Homo sapiens: one gene and its partners. The gene in region 4 interacts genetically with the main gene of each other region. Each region holds a gene or a part of one and is shown on either strand. Other genes may lie near its edges.

Region 1 (4,069 bases), on a different chromosome or scaffold from region 4:
ACTGAAAGGAAACGTGAAAATGTCAGCAGTGGCTATCTCTGGGTAGTGGCCTTATAGCTTATTATTTTCTACTTTGTACTTTTCTACATTTTCCACAATGGAAACATGATTTTTCTGATTAGATAAGACCATTTTAGGATTTCAAGCAGCCCTGCTGAGATTGGAACCCTGGGTGCGCAGTGTTTGAAGGGACTGGGGAGAGCATGGCAGAAGGCCCTGGAGATCGGGGTCCCAGGCAGGGTCAAGGCCACACTGAGGCGCCAGCAGGGAGCACAGCCGCCTCCAGGATAGAGCACCCTGGCAGTTCTCACCCTCTAGCTCTTCCAGTTGTACCTCCCGGAGGCTTTCCTTGCCCAGCGCCCGGGCCACTTCTTCACATTGGCGCCGCCGCACAGGGTACTCGCTGGAGGCCAGGGAGTGGCGGACATTAGAGTTGGTGATGAGCACGGCCAGCTTGGGGTCCGAGAGTGGCACCAGGCTGGTCTCCAAGGACCTGGGGTGGAGTTACAATGGGGGAGATGACGAGGCCAAGCGTGTGCTTGCTGCGCCAGGCAGTGGGCACACTCCCACCCAGGAGCTGCTGAGTGCAGGGCGGGAGGGGACGAGGGGAGCGAGCCCAACCTGCAGTCAATGAGCAGCGCGTGGCCTTTCTGTCCCATAAGTGAGATGAACTGGTCCATGATGCCACAGGGCATCCCTGCGAAGCTGTGCTCGGCCTGCTGACACACCTGGGCGCGGGCAGCTATTGTGCCCGAGTCTGCAGTACAGGGTGAGGTGGGGAGGCTAGGGCTGGTGGAAGCAGCAGTGGCTTCAATGACACTCCAGGGAGAGTCCCTGCCACCCCCTCCATAAGGCATAGTAGAAGCTGGGACCACCTGGAGACCTCAGGGAAGGAGGGCTGGGTCAGGGCTGGGGCCTAGCTGGTACCTGGACAGAGCTGCTGGAGGAAGGTGTACGTGGCCACTTCCAAGGATGCTGAGCTGGACAGGCCACCCCCCAGGGGCACTGAGCTGACCACCACTGCACTGAAGCCAGGGAGGGGGGCAGCTGCAGGGGAAAGAACAGGTGATGGTAAGAGGGGCTGCCTGGGAGGATGGCACAGGAAGGGCAGGTGTCCTGGCGGGAAGGGCAGCAACGGCCTAGCAGCTGTTTCTAGGGTGTGTGTCTCAATTGTCAGAAGCCACCAACCTGCTGGGCCAAGGGACCCACTGCCCTCCATTTTCCCACCCTCTGAGGTTGCTGGGACACTTCTAATTGTCCTCCTGGTTTAGGGCTCTGGAGGGAAAAAAGGCTGGGGTTCAAATCCTGGCTCCTCCAATCAGGTCACGGGAAACCCAGGGCAAGTTCCCGACCTTCTGGGGGCATCAGTTTCCTCATCTGTACAATGGGATGCTCCACTCTACAAGCCTTCCCCACAGTGTATCAGACAAATGAATGGGCTCTGTGGCTGTGAGGTGGCACTCCTAGTATCAGTGAGGACTTGGCTCAGGCCTGGGCCCCATACCTGGGTAGTACTGAATCACTCCCTTGACATAGTTGGCCCACCGAGGAGTCCCAGGCTCCAGCGAGCGCTGGGCTGTGGGCAGTGGAAACTGCAGCCGCTGGGGCTCATCGGCACCCTCAGAGGTGGTGAGGAGAGACACCAGCCCATCCTTGCGGGGGCTGCCCACCAGCACCGTCATGAGCTCCAGAGCCTGGCAGGAGAGACAAGCAGTACGTGAGGCTTCCGCCAGCTGGAGTAAGCCTCTCCAATGACACTGCCTCCAGCCGAGGTTCTGATGCCTCCACAGTCATCAGGTTCTGAACCTCCAGGTTCAGCGTCGCAGGGAAGATCCTGAGGGCCAGCTGACCTTGGGGGCTTGAGCCCTGCCCCCTTAGGTCTTCAGGGGCGGGGCGGCTGCAGCTGGAGCACAGACCTGGACTCTGCCCTGAGCTGTGGGGCAAGGGGGAGAGCTAGCCCAAAGGGAAAACAGATCACTGGAGCTCCAAAGCCTTTACATTTTGGGGTGGCTCTGGACATCCTGTACCTGTGCACTCCCCAAGCTGCAGATGGGGCGGAAAGCGCCCCCCGCTGAAAGCTGGGAGTCCTCACTCCCAAGTCGCAGCCCCGCCAAGAACCTGCTGTGTGACCTCCAGCAGTTCACTGGGCCTCTCTAGGCCTCAGTTTCCTCCTCTGTAAATTGAACGGGCTGGGCCAGAAGGCTACGTTCGCCCAGGTCTGCGGTTGGGGCCCCACGGTGGCCGGAGGCGCGGAGTGTCCCCTTCTGCGTGGCACACAGGGCCTCACAGTTTAAGGGGAACATGCTCCCAGGTTGAAGGCGAGGAGCCCCAGCCCCCAGAGGGCGGGCTTGAGCCAAGAGGCGGCCGCGCACCCTCTCCCGGCCACTTCCTCGCTTCCTCCCTTCCAACGTGGGGAACAGCCTGTCCCGGGGACTCTTCCGTGCACCGGTGCTCCAGGCGCAGCTGCCCGCCCCACATCTCCCGCGGGAAGAACTCGCCCCCAGCGTCCCCGAGGCCCGCCCTCCTCGGCGGCCGGGACAGGCGGCGGCGGGCTAGGGGCTCCCCGTGCAGCCCCTCACCATAGGCAGCACCAGGCCCTGGTTGTAGTCCGTGTGTTCCCCGATGAGGTTGACGCGGCCCGGCGCTGACACGGCCAGCTCGGGCTCGGCCCCGAACTCCTCCCGGAAGGCTCGCCGGGCCTCGGCCAGCAGCTCCGCGACCTGGGGCTGTCTCAAAGCAGCCATGACGCGCGCCTGCAGCTCTGCACAGCTGCTCCGGCACAGCCCCGTCGGCGCGGGATGCTCGGGCGGGGCCCCGCGCGGGGGTGCGCACATTCCCGCCAGCCCCGCCCCGCGCCCGGACGCCCCGCCCCCAGACCTCAGCCGGTTCCGCCCCCACCCGCAACTCCCGTGGGAATCCAGCTGCTGGGTGGTGGGTGGCAGGGGCTAATGGTGCCGGGTGGGATACAGCGCCCCCGATGGTGTCCTTCCCTCTGGACTTCGGGAAGAACCAATGAGCACTCACTAGAGTGAGAATAGCCCTGAGTGGCACTTGGCATGACCAGGATTTCTGAGCTGCCCTTCCCTGGCGCTGGTGACTTTCTATGTGCCTCACCACCCACCACCACCCACACAGCCAGAGCAATGGAGCTGGCACCCGGTTGACCTGGGATTCCCAAAGGGATCCCCTAGGTCCCCAGGGCCAGCAGCTGTGAGAGGTCATCAGCCTCTGATCACCGGTCTCCAAGAGGGTGACCTGACACTCACTGTAAGTAGAGATAAAGACAGACAAGTTTGGGCCGGGCGCAGTGGCTCACGCCTGTAATCCCAGCACTTTGGGAGGCCGAGGTGTGCAGATCACCTGAGGTCGGGAGTTGGAGACCAGCCTGACCAACATGGAGAAACCCCATCTCTACTAAAAAATACAAAATTAGCTGGGCATGGTGGCTCATGCCTGTAATCCCAGCTACTCGGGAGGCTGAGGCAGGAGAATCACTTGAACCTGGGAGGCGGAGGTTTCGGTGAGCTGAGATCACACCATTGCACTCCAGCCTGGGCAACAAGAGCAAAACTCTGTCTCAAAAAAAAAAAAGACAAGTTTGGTGGTGACCAGAGAGTCAATTTTACAAGCTCCTTTTCTAGGTAATACGCAACAGCTCCTAGCAATGGAGAATTGGACTAGGGTGGCGGTGGCCAGCAGTGGGCCCAGCCCCTCCCTTAAGGACCTGCCACAGCTGTCCAGGTAGGTTGTGCTGTTGGCCCCAGCAGGCACTACTTCAGCCCAGAAGCCCTTGTCTCAGAGGCGTGGCCTTGTTCCCAGTCAGGCACTCTTCTCTTGCTATCCTGCATCCTAAACCTGCTGGCCGGCCCCAACTGCTGCCTTGATACCTGTCCACAGCTGCCCACCCTACATGGAACCTTGAAACTGAAAGACTGAAATGTAAGCAGCTTGCTTGGGGTTAGGGTGGGAGTAGTGTGGGGAGTTATGGCCAGGGATTTAGCTTGGGGCCTGCTCAGGGGTGTGCCCAAAGAGTGGGGAACTGCATTCCAAGGGCAATTCTGAAAACTCT
Region 2 (3,500 bases), on a different chromosome or scaffold from region 4:
AGCGATTGTGAGACCAAAAGTTTGATAACTGCTAGCCTAACAAACTAGCCAAACTTAGTGTTGAGAATTAGTGTTTAAAATGTGTTAAAAACCTATCATCAGCCTTTATTGAAATATAAATTGTGTTGAACCTGATCTTTTCTCGCCCTTTTCCTGACTTTTTACATTGCTTGTCAACAATATTCTACCTCTTTATTTTATTCTTGGAACAGGTGCTACTGAATGAACTATTTCAACCCTTTCCTCAATTCCCTTCTCTTTTTAAAAAAATTTTACCTGAGACTGGGAGAATGTTAGAAGTGTGTAATCAGGCAGCTAAATGCTCTAGTAAGAATAATGATATCTTGAGGCAAGCTGCAGTCTAATATAATATAATGAATGCATATTAGAAATCGACTTTATTATTTCCTATCTCTAATGAATTGATACATAATAGGCCATATGTGATGTGTCTAGTGCAGCGTATCTCTATGGTCCACATGTACTTTCTATGACAAGAATAAACAAAACTGGGAGAAATGACCGGATTTTAAATTATCATTTCACAAAGTCATGTTTCATAAAATATATTGAACTGAAGTCTTTCCTTGAAGTTGTGATGCCAGTTTCCTGTTGGAGCAGAAGTTGGTCTCAGTGACTATGTGGCCTGAGGCAGGGCCTGAGACTGGGAGGTCCAGCAGCTCAGGAAGGGGAAATGTGTGAGACTAATGGGAGCCAAGCAGGCACTTTGGTGAGAGACAGAGATGCTGACTCATGCGCCAGTGAGATGTGTGCATGTCTGAGATCACATGTGTCATTTGCTTACCTGTGAAATGTGTGTGGGCATGTGACTGTGTGTTTGTCCCTGTGACACATCTATTACTCAGTAAGCAGGACAGTGCTGTTTGTGGTAGGTGTTCCACACATTAAATGGATGAGCACACAGCTTTTCACAGGTGGAATCACTGTCTCAAAGTATTTCCCTCAGTTGTCATAGGGCCTGAAATCTCTCTAATTCACTGGGCGGAGACACTGTGTTCAAGTGGCCGAAATGACAATGTTAGTATTTTACTGATGACATTAACAGTGATTAACATCTCAGAGAGGAGCTGTTAGTGGGTGTTGTCCTTGATCATAAGCAGATACCCAGAAAGCATGGGACAGAGGAGCCGTGTGAGCTGTGGTGGCCTGGCAGGAACCTGGATGCTGGAAGGGAGCTCTGGAAGATGTTGGGCTGGGCTTTGGGGATGGGGTTGACTATTATTTGCCAGTTTCCACCTTCCCAGAACCAGTCCTATCTACCTTTCAGGAGGAGTGCCACTCCCTCTTCCCAGATGTATGCAACACAACACACACACACACACACACACACACACGCACACACACACGCAGAGAGAGAGAGGTTAGTAGCCCTTTCAAAGCCTTCAGACTCACCTGTGTATATTTTATATCATGTATATTTTACCAAGTTTCCCTGTCCTGCATCTTCTCTTCCCATAATGCCTATCTTGAATCCTGTTCACTCTTCCCCATATGCTGCTGGTACAGACTGTATTGGTGATCACGTACCGAGAACCCCCAAATCCTGAGTATCAGGAATTCCAGAATCGTCTGCTGATAAGAGCCCGGGAAGACTTTGGTGTGGAGCTGGGCCCTTCCCTGGTAAGTAGATCTCTCCCTTCCTGAGAGTCAGGTCAAGCTTTGGGGAAGGGCTTCTCTCCCAAACTCAGCATCAAGTCTTGGCTGTGGAGCAAGCCCAACTTTGGGGGGTCTCCGCTTCTGTCCAGGATTTTTCCTTCTGCCCTATGGAGTAGTTAGGAAGGGATGGCACTTTAGGAATAAGAGGGAAGAAAGCAAACCAGAAGAGAGAATAGGTAGAAGGGAGACCCCAGAGAGAGGGGAAGGGGCCTTGCAGGACATTTGGAGAGTACTGCTGAAGTTGCCACCCCCAGATGAACCTCATCGCTGGCTGCTTCTATGATGGGATCCTGCTATATGCTGAAGTCCTGAATGAGACAATACAGGAAGGAGGCACCCGGGAGGATGGACTTCGAATTGTGGAAAAGATGCAGGGACGAAGATATCACGGTAATGAAGAGGGGTCAATGGGGGTCTGAGGGCTGATGTCAGGAATAGAGTGGGCTGAAGAAGAAACAGATGTCAGGATCACCACAGCTTTAGTGGGGGTTAGTGAATATGGCAGAGTTGCCCACACCTCAAGATCGGGGAAGGGTAGACTCTGAGGGAGCCGTAGGCATGAGTGAGTGGGAGAGGAGCCCAGGGTAGACCTCAAAGAAAGGACACTCTTTTCTGTCTTAGGTGTAACTGGGCTGGTTGTCATGGACAAGAACAATGACCGAGAGACTGACTTTGTCCTCTGGGCCATGGGAGACCTGGATTCTGGGGACTTTCAGGTGATGGAGGAGGAGGCAGGGAAGAGAGTGTGGCCCTGCAAAATCCAGCTTTCAAGGGTTCAGTCGGGGCAGAACCAAAACTACTAGATGAGGGATTTGTTTTCTCTGCTGGCACTGCATCCTGGCTGGGTGGTAGGCTGGGGAGAAAAGCAGCGAAACAGCTGGGGTCTGGGGAGGAGGCTGGTGGGAGCAGGCCTGTGGGCCCAGCTTTTTGCTTCCTTACAGCCTGCAGCCCACTACTCGGGAGCTGAGAAGCAGATTTGGTGGACGGGACGGCCTATTCCCTGGGTGAAGGGGGCTCCTCCCTCGGACAATCCCCCCTGTGCCTTTGACTTGGACGACCCATCCTGTGATAAAAGTGGGTGTGTGCAGGGACTGGGAGCAGCTTTCCTCCCTTTGCTTTCCATTCATGGCCTCCACCCTCACTGACCCTCCACTCTTAACTGTGCTTCTGCCTTTACGTCTGCATCCCTCCCTCCTCATTTCTTCCTACTCCCAAGGAGTCTGTCTATGCACCTATGCACCCCGTTCTCCATTCTGCCAAGTCCGCACACAGTCTTCCTCAGGGTCTCTATTTCCCCTTCAGCTCCACTTTCAACCCTGGCAATTGTGGCTCTGGGCACAGGAATCACCTTCATCATGTTTGGTGTTTCCAGCTTCCTAATTTTCCGGTGAGTTCTGGGTTTCTTGCTGACCTACTCCCTGCCCCCATTGCCACACAACCTCTGGCTGAAGCCAGGTGGTCCCTATAATGTGGGATAGGGTAGTAGGTTTCTTAATTTGCTGGTTGTCTCTTAGATCCAACAGCGTCTTCCTCTCTAGCCTTTCTCTTTAGTTGTCGCTTAGCCTAGGTGTTTGTTCCACTTTTGGTCCTAGACTGGATATACTAACTAGTGTTTTTCAGTGGGGTTAAGATCAAAGGTGAATTTTCCATTGGTCTTCTTTTAGGAAAGAACTTTCACCCCCAGTCTCTGTGTTTGTTAGTGAGCATAGGGCATGTGCCAGATATGCCGAGAATGCAGCCTTATCTTCCAGCCCTGTCTCTCAGGTGTAACAGTTGCAGCTTCAGGAGCTGCAGGGAAGCCCCTGCAACCCTGCTGTTGGCTT
Region 3 (2,252 bases), on a different chromosome or scaffold from region 4:
GACAGACTCCCACACTCACCCCTGCACCCATGCCTGCACCCGTAACGCTCTGCTGGTCTCTGCCCCACAGTGGCCATCAACCTCATCGTGCAGCACATCCAGGACATCCTGAATGGAGGGCCCTCCAAACGGCAGACCAATGGCTGTCTCAACGGCTACACCCCTTCACGCAAGAGGCAGGCATCGGAGTCCAGCAGCAGGCCGCATTGACCCGTCTCCATCGGACCCCAGCCCCTATCTCCAAGAGACAGAGGAGGGGTCAGGAGGCACTGCTCATCTGTACATACTGTTTCCTATGACATTACTGTATTTAAGAAAACACCATGGAGATGAAATGCCTTTGATTTTTTTTTTCTTTTTGTACTTTGGAACGACAAAATGAAACAGAACTTGACCCTGAGCTTAAATAACAAAACTGTGCCAACTACTACTGGTGATGCCTAATTATGAATCCAACGTGTAACCAGTTATAAATACATATATATATAAAAAAGGATCTATTTTTGTGTAAATGTACAAATACTGTAAAGCTGTTTGCCATAAGTATTTTGCAGGAGGGTCTGTACTTGAGTGTTTTAGGACTGGAGCTGGAATTTCACCAAGGGGAAATTGCCTGTTGTGTCCCAGGGTGGGGAGGCTCGGGCATCTGTGAGAGACAGGGAGGGTGGCTAAGGTCCAGTTGCTTTTGAGTGCCCCGTGGAACTTGATGGGAATGGGGTTGGAAAACCTTGATTGCCTCCTCTGTCACATGCCACTCTTGGAGCTGGAGCTTAGTGATATGTCAATGAGAGATACTCTTGTCTTTTTTTTTTTTCTTTTCTTTTTTTTTTTTGAGTTGAAATTAGGTAAAATCTCAACTCAAAAATCAAACTCAGGGAAGAGGCCCACTGAGGAGAACAAGTCTTCTGCATTTTCTTCCTGCCCTGCTCCCACCTTCTCGCCTCTGGCTGCTTGGATAGCTTGGTGACTCCTTCCTCACCCTCCTGCTTCTCTGTCTCTCCAAGAAGCCAGAGCTGCCTCTTTCCTTCCCTGGAAGAGATTTTATGGGATCGCTTCCTGATAGAAGATGGGAAGGAGAGGGCAGAACTTTGCCTGCTGTCATATCTGAAGAATCACTGGTTCTTTCTGCATCCCAGGGGCGTAACTGATCTGACTCCTTGGGCTTTTTCCTGTATTGTGGAATATAGAGTGGACCATTGCAGGCTGGGTGTGGGTGAGGGCTTCGGTAACTGATGCCGGCAGCAGCGCCTCATGGAGTGGCAGGGGAGCTCTGTCTGTGGAGGGGTAGTAGTTTCCGCTTCCTGGAGGTTTGCAGTGAGGTGAGGAGAGTAACTTTGGTCAGGGATTCTCACTAGCAGCGTCATGGCCAGGATGCTTTACTTATTTGCAATACCACCTAGTGGATATGGCAACTGCAGAGCATAAAAGGGGCTCGGAAAAGCAGTTTTTACAAAGTATTTAAAAGGAGAGTATTTAAATCATAGGTACCTAAGTTGGAGCCTGAGGTTGAAATATTTGGGGTGGAGATTTCTAGCTTTCCTGAGAGCTGCTGCTTGGTGGTAGTGTTTTCTCTGGAAGTACAGATTCCTGACATTCTGGGTGGAGGGGAGCCCAAGTGAGCCTGAAGGAGTTCTGATTATAGAGTCCCGAGCCTCAGTTTCTGACTGCAGAAGAGCCAGAGATGTTCATTTCATTGTTGACCACCCTAGTGCTTGGTGGACTGTGCCCTTAGCTATCCCACTGTGGCTGCCATTGCCAGAAACATTTTGGAGAACCTTTTCTTCCCATTGCTCTCAGAGCCTGTTCGAGCCATTCAGGTAAATTGGTCTCCATTATTACCTGGTCACACCAGATTTTCCCCCAGACTCAGCACCATCCAGTCTGATTCCCCGTTTCTGGGCTCAGTTTGACTCTAAATCTGTTTTGCTATTTTAAAAAGTCAAACCTGGTCCCCAGCAGAGCTTGCCACCCGGAGACTTTCAGGAGACCGTGCAGGCTCTGAAGGGAGCTCCCAGTCACAGCAGCCGCCTACTTGGAGCAAGGGAAGGCTCCCAAGATGCCTCCTTTGAAAGCCGGTGCTCACCAAGATCAGTTCAGGATCAATCATTATCCTTGTAGTCATGCCTTGATCAGTTCTGAGATGAAGCAGGGAATGCAGGCCTGGGTTAGTATCCTGAGGACACAGGGCCCCTGGCCTTGATGGCACTGGGCTGTGCTCAGGTGAAGCCCACCCGTGTCTGGGAGAGCCTTGG
Region 4 (2,298 bases):
AACAGAACCCTTGTGCCCATACTTTTGCCCCCCGAGTTTGGCCTGCCCTGGCGCCACAGGCAGTACTGGAAGCTGATAAGTCAGGGCACAAATTAAAGGTCTAGGAGGCAAGACCAACTGATAAACAGGGGGCGTAATGCTTCCTGGGGATAATCCCATCTCAAGGAAAAGCTTTTGGCTATTTCTGTGTTAGCAGATGCGAGCAAGTTGTGGAGGAAAATGATTAACTTAAAGGCCACACCCCCCAACCCCTTCAGCTGTACGGGCATCTGGATGGCCAGACCCCTGATCAGCTCCAGGCCTTGCCTAGAGTCGCACACAGGAAGTGACCACAACACTAAGGCATCCGGAGGCTGCTGGCCCAGACCACGGACCGCCCCCTGCTCCGCCCCTTGAATCTGCAGCCCCGAACTGGAGGGAATTTCCTTTTATGGCCCCAGGCTGTCAGGCAGGCCCAGCTCCAAACCAATTGTTTTGTTTTGTTTGTATACTTTACTTTATAAAATACATATTTCTTGGAAAAGAAAAAAATCAGGTATAGTTTTAATCCCAAAACAGCCATTCTCATTTTCTTCTGTTTTCTATGCACAGGATTGCTAAGTAGGGGAATCCTGCTTTGCATGGTGGTTTGTTATCTACCTCATCAGTAGTCAAAAGCATTTCTCCTTTTCAACATAAACCCTTCCAAAACATCATTTAAATTCCATTCCATTTTTAGATGTTAGTTTCAGTACCAGAGCCAAATAGTAAGTTTGTTCCCTCTTCTATAAGTTGTGGCCTGCCTTCTCCAAGACACCCTTCTCCCCCACTAACATGCACTGAACAGCTGCTGTCAATCCATTCCCTCAAGAAACTTAAAGGTCTAACAGACAAGACAGTCCATTAACAGATTTTTACAATCCAGTGCAACAAGTGCTGAAGTAGGGGGACATATAAGATGTGGTGGAAAACAGAAAGGACCAATAGATGTTGCAGAAGGGGTGCAAGAGAAACCAGGGGAAGAGCACTACCACCTAAGGAAATGAGATGTGGGATATGGTGAAGATAACACATTTTTTTATAGAGGTTGTTGAGATATCTAGGTGGTTGGTTTGGTTTGAAGCTCAGGGGAAGGTCTGAAATGGACAGCTTTGGGAGTTGCTGGCATGAATGAGAATCAAAGTCCTAGAGAGGTAAGCCTTCCCAGAGAGTATGTAATTATCAGTTTTTCAGGAATCAAAACCTTTGCCCCATCCCACCTCCAGCTCAATGACCATTGCCCCTTCCTCAAAGGGACGATCATGGCTTCTCCCCCTTGCACTGGGCCTGCCGAGAGGGCCGCTCTGCTGTGGTTGAGATGTTGATCATGCGGGGGGCACGGATCAATGTAATGAACCGTGGGGATGACACCCCCCTGCATCTGGCAGCCAGTCATGGACACCGTGATATTGTACAGAAGGTACGTACAAACTCCTTCGTCATCCACATCACATACATGCCATGAGGGTCAGTCACAGGCACTGTAACATACAGTAGAAAGCATGTGTGCTCTTCCCCCTTTTCCCATGCCCTGACACCAGTATCTCATTTGGAACTGACTGTACTTTCTGCCTCTTCTTTTTGTCTGGCCATGGGGTCCAGCTATTGCAGTACAAGGCAGACATCAATGCAGTGAATGAACACGGGAATGTGCCCCTGCACTATGCCTGTTTTTGGGGCCAAGATCAAGTGGCAGAGGTGAGTACTCAGCCCTTAATTCCTGAGATGGGTAGGAAGTAAAGTCTGAGCCTTGGTGGGAGATTTTGGAACCCTCAACCCATTCTGTCAGTACTACTGTGTGACACTTACAGGATTAAGTTCTACATTTGTGCATTCATGGTTGGTTCAGTGACTGCCAGCGAGGTAGCAGTGGCTCTCATCATAATGGCCTTTTCATTCCAGGACCTGGTGGCAAATGGGGCCCTTGTCAGCATCTGTAACAAGTATGGAGAGATGCCTGTGGACAAAGCCAAGGCACCCCTGAGAGAGCTTCTCCGAGGTCCATCTCCCCATCCCCTAGCTTGTGTCCTCTCGTCCCTTCCCACCTGTCTTCTCCCTCTGTACCACAGCTTAGGTTGTTTTTCTTCCCTAGAGCGGGCAGAGAAGATGGGCCAGAATCTCAACCGTATTCCATACAAGGACACATTCTGGAAGGGGACCACCCGCACTCGGCCCCGTGAGTCACCACTGTGGGAAGAAGGGTTGTAAAAGGAAATAATCCTGGCCTCTTGGGGCTGGGTTAGGGTGAAGCTGGGTACCTGACCTGCCCACACTCTTAGG

The links. Genes that interact genetically often act in the same process or in processes that back each other up.
Region 1: changes in ILK (region 4) and GALK1 together harm fitness less than expected from each alone (positive genetic interaction), as found in Homo sapiens cells (one large-scale study listed by BioGRID).
Region 2: changes in ILK (region 4) and NPR2 together harm fitness less than expected from each alone (positive genetic interaction), as found in Homo sapiens cells (one large-scale study listed by BioGRID).
Region 3: changes in ILK (region 4) and UCK2 together harm fitness less than expected from each alone (positive genetic interaction), as found in Homo sapiens cells (one large-scale study listed by BioGRID).

Annotation. Positions count from the first base shown.
Region 1 is NC_000017.11:75,762,393-75,766,461, forward strand, and holds the start of GALK1 (galactokinase), read right to left. Parts: upstream 2,801-4,069; 5' UTR 2,745-2,800; coding exon 2,580-2,744; intron 1,695-2,579; coding exon 1,505-1,694; intron 1,048-1,504; coding exon 928-1,047; intron 758-927; coding exon 622-757; intron 494-621; coding exon 312-493; intron 1-311. UniProt on the Homo sapiens protein: Catalyzes the transfer of a phosphate from ATP to alpha-D-galactose and participates in the first committed step in the catabolism of galactose.
Region 2 is NC_000009.12:35,798,091-35,801,590, forward strand, and holds part of NPR2 (atrial natriuretic peptide receptor 2 isoform 1 precursor), read left to right. Parts: intron 1-1,527; coding exon 1,528-1,641; intron 1,642-1,931; coding exon 1,932-2,067; intron 2,068-2,298; coding exon 2,299-2,393; intron 2,394-2,618; coding exon 2,619-2,751; exon of another isoform or gene 2,752-2,755; intron 2,756-2,979; coding exon 2,980-3,064; intron 3,065-3,500. UniProt on the Homo sapiens protein: Receptor for the C-type natriuretic peptide NPPC/CNP hormone. Has guanylate cyclase activity upon binding of its ligand. May play a role in the regulation of skeletal growth.
Region 3 is NC_000001.11:165,907,614-165,909,865, forward strand, and holds part of UCK2 (uridine-cytidine kinase 2), read left to right. Parts: intron 1-70; coding exon 71-210; 3' UTR 211-2,252. UniProt on the Homo sapiens protein: Phosphorylates uridine and cytidine to uridine monophosphate and cytidine monophosphate. Does not phosphorylate deoxyribonucleosides or purine ribonucleosides. Can use ATP or GTP as a phosphate donor.
Region 4 is NC_000011.10:6,606,774-6,609,071, forward strand, and holds part of ILK (scaffold protein ILK), read left to right. Parts: exon of another isoform or gene 1-1,272; coding exon 1,273-1,438; exon of another isoform or gene 1,439-1,620; coding exon 1,621-1,716; exon of another isoform or gene 1,717-1,920; coding exon 1,921-2,017; exon of another isoform or gene 2,018-2,110; coding exon 2,111-2,194; exon of another isoform or gene 2,195-2,297; coding exon 2,298-2,298. UniProt on the Homo sapiens protein: Scaffold protein which mediates protein-protein interactions during a range of cellular events including focal adhesion assembly, cell adhesion and cell migration.